2 linked regions of the Homo sapiens genome follow. The protein of the gene in region 2 purifies or fractionates together with the protein of the main gene of each other region. This does not show direct contact. Each region holds a gene or a part of one and is shown on either strand. Other genes may lie near its edges. The genes, in order: ACBD3 and SLCO2A1.

Region 1 (2,608 bases), on a different chromosome or scaffold from region 2:
GAATTATTAGCAATTATTTATTATTTTGAACCGGTTGCTTCTCCTGCTCCAAAAGATAGATGGTCAAGACTCGGTAGCATACTTTCCAAGATGTGCTTACCTCAACTGCTCTCCTTAATGCGTCTTCAGTCTGGCTTTATGGTATCCCACACAGCAAAAATAACCAAGATGGTCACCTCATCTGTCTCCCCAGATTTCAAAAGAAAAAAATTATGCCAGTCACCCTGCCTATCAGTGGGGTCATCTGGATGTAGCAACCTCATTCTGGGACTCCACATCACACTGATCGCGCACTTCCCCACAAGTGCTCTGCAATCATCCACCCTGAGCAAGCGAGGGCTCTGCCTCTGGAGATCCATTAAAGTGTGTGGGGTCCACATATTTAATGGAACACACTACATACATGGTAGTGTAGAGAAACAACTTTATAACCTAGTCATTTTCAATAAGAAAAATCAGTGCTAGCCTTTGCATTTAAAAGTGTGGAAAAATTTAAATCTATTTTAACTCACTAAGGTAATTAATAGTAAAACTAAATAATTGGCCAGAAAGAGTTGTTTTTCAACTAGAGCCTTTTAAAACAAAAAAGATGTTTGAAACATTTCTTTTTCTCCTACCCAAATGTTGAAATACTGTACTAATGCTTCAGAGAGTAACTATATTAATGAAACATCAACAAGTTACAGATAAACATTTTAATTGATTAAATATATTACTTTCAAGATCTTTTTGAAATCGCACTTGTACTGTACTAATCAACAGCCAAAGGCAATAAGAAAGTTTAAAACCAAAAATATTCTGACATGAACACATGACAGGAACCGCTGCTATGTAAAGTAACATACACTGCTCCCAAGAACAATGATATTTTTAGGAGATAATTCATCTTAACATGTGCAAGGACAAATTTGTAATCAAAGGCTGGAAGAAATATATATTAGTGCCTGCTTTTTAAAAGTTTATTTTACATTTTAAATACAGTATTTTTCTCATAAAAAAAAAATCCAGGAAGTGCCTAACTCCATGGTTTCTATACCATATGTACATGAAAGCTGACAGAGAGCCTGACAAATGTTCTGGATGTAACAGTATGAACACCTATGAGCTGGGACTACTTCTGAATCAAAATTAAAAAACACAAATTAAGCACTGCTTAAGAAAAAAAAAATCCAGTTTCTGAACAACCAAAAGAGAACAGAGTTAGATATGTACAAAACCAGGTATTAAAAAACAGAAAGAAATACAGCACACAAAAAACTCAAACAACCCATATGTAGTGAACTGTATATACTGCAGTTAATGAAAACCCTCCTACAAGAAGTGATTTAGGATTTGAAATTTTAAAAATCTAAGTACTTCAGTAACAACATACAATAACAACATTAAGTGTATATTGCCATCTTTGTCATTTTCTATCTATACCACTCTCCCTTCTGAAAACAAGAATCACTAGCCAATCACTTATACAAATTTGAGGCAATTAATCCATATTTGTTTTCAGTAAGGAAAAAAAGATGTACCTCTTCCCGTCAATAAAGAAATAACACAAATTAAAGCTATAAAATTTAAGCATGGGCATATGTATTTCCAATTCTCCTTAATAAGTAATTCCAAACTGGAATAATGTGGGGTTTGTGACTAAGTAGTAACAAATTAAAAGAAAATAGACTGTCTCTGGCAGTGATTTCCATATTAGTGCAATGTTACTTCCCATATGCTGAATTATATTTAAATGATTTTATGTATTTTAATTCAGTAGGTGCCAATTTGAGTTTATAAAATCCTTAATTTTATTCTTTGTGCAGAAAAGTTTCAATTTGAGATACTCTATGAAGCCAAAACAAAACAAAACAAAACAAAAAACCTGTATTTTGCTACTAGTAGTATGAATACCAAATAAAGATACAAGGATTCAAAGTTTGTGGAAGTTCCTGAAGAAAAATCTCTGAGGTGTTCTACGTATCTTGATACTTCAATTATCAATTAGTTTTGAACATTCTAGTTTAAGATTATCTCAGAAAATAATTCTCTGTAATATAACTCTGAACTAAACAGCTGCACCCAAAGCAGAAACAATCTGGGTCATTCTGAACGAGATCAAACTGAGGCCATTTCTTTTTCTATTATAATCTGTGAGGTGTTGAGTTTTTAAGTTTTAAAAATGGCCTTTAATCAAAGCCAGCTGCACCTGATATAGACTTGTTAACTTATGGATTTCAAATTAGAGGACACTGTAACTACGGGCTCTCATAAGACACATGGAGCAGGCAGCAAGGGGCTAACCATCAGCCGGGTAAGGTCAACGTTGGGGTGTTTTATTTTGGAGACTTTAAATATTTAACATGTAGCTCATGTAACTTCAGCATCCACTAGTGACTCTGCTGGTCAGCACCCAAGGGCTGGATGAGTCTGAGGAATCTCCTTTAACCCCAAAGTATGAATGCTAAAGAGTCTCAAGGAAATTTTGATTCCCAGCAAGAGTTCACAAACCATCAGACCAATATCAATAAGGTAAACTGTGACTCTAATGCTCCACAAAAGTAAAAAGAAATTTCCAAATTAAATGTCATCTTCTGCCCAACCCTAGACTCCAGACTTTGTAACAACA
Region 2 (3,826 bases):
ACACCCATTCCCATCCCCAGCTCAATAAAGCAGCCCCCAGCCCCCTCATCCAATCAGAACAGAGAATGAAGCTTCAGCTCCAGATGCGCTCTGCCACCTCCTCACTCGCTCACTCATCCCTGCAGTCCCTCGGAGAGCCAGGAGCAGACAGTGTGTGCCTCCTCTCTCAGGGCCCACGCTGGCCACTGTGAGGAACAAGCTGCTGAAGCAAACTCACTTTCTGCCCTTAAGAAGTTTGGAGACCCAGGGCAGGACCTCAGGTGTTGCCACCACAGCGCCCATCTTGGTGGCATTAAAAATATTTCTATGGGCTGGGTGCGGTGGCTCAAGCCTGTAATCCCAGCACTTTGGGAGGCTGAGGCGGGTGGATCACGAGGTCAGGAGATCAAGACCACCCTGGCTAACACGGTGAAACCCCGTCTCTACTAAAAATACAAAAAAATTAGCCGGGCGTGGTGGCAGATGCCTGTAGTCCCAGCTACTTAGGAGGCTGAGGCAGAAGAATGGCGTGAACCTGGGAGGCAGAGCTTGCAGTGAGCCGAGATCATGCCACTGCACTCCAGCCTGGGCGACAGAGTGAGACTCTGTCTGAAAGAAAAAAAAAAAATTCTATGGTTCTTTGATTCTAAGATGTTGCTGGTTCTTTAAGATTTAATAAGAGCTCTTTTGAGGAAAAAAAAGAAACATCATATAAAATATACACACGGATGATGACTCACATCCAGAGGGTATAACATGGTGTTTGACTGTGTGGGCGCTGGGACGGGACTGCCTGGGTCTCATCCTGGCTCCATCTCTTACTAGCCAAGTGATCTTAGGCAAGTAACTTTGTCTTTCTGTGCCTCAGCTTCCTCATCTGTAAAATGGAGCTAATGATAGTAAAATAAAGTTGTTTTAAAGATCAGAACAAGCCTAATGTATATTAAGAAGTCAACAGTATGAGTTCGTATTCTTCAACAAGTGGTATGGATGAGAATATATAGTCCCTAGACACCAGCATAAGTTCTGAGTTAACCATTCAGGGAGCCAGCCCCAGGATGAATGGAGCAAGGGCTTCCTGCCTTTGAGAGTGTGTCCCACACTACCCAGTCTCCCACAAGATGGGGAAGGTCAGCACCACAACAGAGGGACAGGCAAAGTGCTGTAGGGTGGAGAATGTGGGGAGTGTGTGGGTGGGATACGAAGTTCCAGCTCGGCTGAAGGGGTGGCTGAAAGGCAGGACTGAGCCAGACTCCAGGAAGAGCACTCCCACCACTGCCCTGCAAACAAGTCACGTCACAGATATCTGGCAGGTGCTAGTTGCAACCATGCTGCTAGAGCCTAGACTCCCGTCCCTAAGACTGTCAGACCACAGTGCCATCTGCATGGTGTCATTTGGCTGTACTTCCAATGAAAGTAGAAAGCCAGGGGGTGTCTTATGCCTCAGGATCAAGCCATCCCTGTCCTTTTGCTGGCACTCCCCGAATTGGTTCCTGGCTCTTGGTTGCCCAAAGAGACCAGCAACTGAGTGCCCAGTCCACTCAGGGCAGTGCCCAGGGAAGCTTGTCATGATTTGACTGAACCGTTCTGCCACCTTCTCCTTCCCTTTATGCCCGGATAGTTTCTTTACACAGAGAAACACAATGGCAGACTTTTACACGTGTGCAAGAGAATTGCCAAGAGAAAGCTGCTCCTTTGGAAGCCAGGCAGTTCACACAGTTGATGGTTGTTTCTTTAGGCTTCTAAGGATTATGGGGCCTCCTTTGTTAGGGATCCATAAAGTTGGGAGGCAGTAGTTTAATGGTTAAGAGGGCAGGTTTGCATACCAGGGAGACACAGGCTTGAAATTGACCAATGAAATGGCACTTACTAGCCTTTACCTGAGGCAAGGGACTTAACCCCTTCTATCCTCAGTTTCTTGACTGGTGAGAGGTGGGCAGACTTGCTAGAGAACCCAGTGGAAAACAGATGGAAAGCACGTGGTCTAGAGTCTGGCCCATGGTGTGCCCTTGTGAGTGAGAGTCAGCTCCCTTCTTCACTACTTCTGCCAAGGGCTGGGAGTTGAATAAGGAGGTGAAGGTACTGCTCCCTCCTGCCCGGGGATTTTCTGATGCTGTGCTTCATGTGCAGTGGCCTTGGTCCTCTGGGAAGACCAATAGCTGGGAGAGGGAATGTTGTTTTGACCAAGAATCTAGCTCATGGCTTGCCTCTTCTGCATCCTGGGAAGAAAATCAGTGAAACTCCCCCTGATCAGAGGTTCTGTTTCCAGTAAGGTGAGATCATGCATTCAACAAACATTTGCACTCTTCGTTTTCTCTTCAGCTGCAGTTAACTTGGTCCCGGGTGACCCCCGATGGATTGGAGCCTGGTGGCTAGGCCTGCTCATTTCTTCAGCTTTATTGGTTCTCACCTCTTTCCCCTTTTTTTTCTTCCCTCGAGCAATGCCCATAGGAGCAAAGGTAAGGTTCCAAGAGCCCATGACTCTACCTGATGGAGTTGAAGAAAGGGATGTGGGGGTAGAAAATAAATAGAGCTAAAAAGCTGCAGCATGTTAAGCAAATTCAGGGTGAAATCTAAACAAATTTCATGATGCAGGACTTCCCAGAGGCTTTAAGAGGTGAGGGTGTTGGTGAATTTCCAAAAGGTGGTATCTCCTATGTGTTCCCGTACCATGTTAGCATGTCAAGGATCAGGAGACCTCCAGGGAACAGTTTGGGAAACACTGAGCTTATCTAAATTGAGCTAAAGAATTAAGAGCCAATAAAGGCCAAGTCTGCGACCTGGTACAGTCAACTTTTACATTTAATAGGGCCTATCAGTGTTCAGTGTTTGAACCTGAAAAACTGAGTAGGAAGGGATTCCTAGCATTGAACAGTGTTGAGGGTGGCTGAAATTGGAGCATATTTTGAGCAGAGGACCTTCCAAGCATCTTCCAGTCACGCCTGCTGGGGAAAGGAATCAGGGAAGGATGAGAACGGAGAGCAAGGAAGAGAAGTCTGGGTAGGGGCTTGATGTTCAGCTGAAGGGTCTAAAGATTGTTCTAATTCCATGAAGTTCTAGAGCACTGCAGTGACTGGGTGGCCACTTGGGTGGCAATATGGCAGCTAGGTTGAGTTTAGGGGGTAGGGAAGGAATGGAGGCTGGAGATCTGAAGAGGCCAGTGCAGAGACCAGGTGAGAGATGGGGAATGCAGCAATGGTTGTCGGAGAGCTGGGACAGGGCAAAGATAAGGATAGACATTCCTAGGGTGGATGCCCAGAAGGACTCAGCAGTGAGCTGGCTTGGAGGAGAAGAAGGAGCTAAAGTTTATGCCTAGGCTTCAAGTCCCAAAATAGAGCTCAATGTTTGACAATGAGGTATATAAAATCTAGGCCCAGCCGGGGGGAGAGGGGCAGGGGTGGGAGGACCTCAGCTTGTCTTGGGGAAGAATTTCAGACGTTGGCTACACATCATGCAGGTGCTGGGGTCAGGCAGACCTGGGTTTGAATGAAGCTCTGCTACTTATAAACCAGCTGAGTTGGCCAGGTGTATAATCTCACACTTTAGGAGGCCAAGGCAGGAGGATTGCTTGAGCCCAGGTTGAGATTGGTGGGTAGGGAAGGAATGAAGTTCAAGACCACCCTGGGCAACATAGCGAGACCCCATCTCTAAAAAAAAAATTATTTTAAAAACTTAGCTCAGCATGGTGTTGAGTGCATGTAGTCCCACCTACTTGGGAGGCTGAGGTGGGAGAATCACTTGAGCCCAGGAGTTCGAGGCTGCAGTGAGCTATGACTGCACCACTGCACACCAGCTTGGGTGACAGAGTGAGACCCTGTCTCTAAAAAAATAAAAATAAAAAATAAAA

Evidence for each region.
Region 1: the proteins of SLCO2A1 (region 2) and ACBD3 purify together in Homo sapiens (affinity purification with mass spectrometry; one large-scale study listed by BioGRID and IntAct). This does not show direct contact.

What each region holds. Positions count from the first base shown.
Region 1 is NC_000001.11:226,143,999-226,146,606, forward strand, and holds the end of ACBD3 (Golgi resident protein GCP60), read right to left. Parts: 3' UTR 681-2,608; downstream 1-680. UniProt on the Homo sapiens protein: Involved in the maintenance of Golgi structure by interacting with giantin, affecting protein transport between the endoplasmic reticulum and Golgi. Involved in hormone-induced steroid biosynthesis in testicular Leydig cells.
Region 2 is NC_000003.12:133,949,820-133,953,645, reverse strand, and holds part of SLCO2A1 (solute carrier organic anion transporter family member 2A1), read left to right. Parts: intron 1-2,301; coding exon 2,302-2,438; intron 2,439-3,826.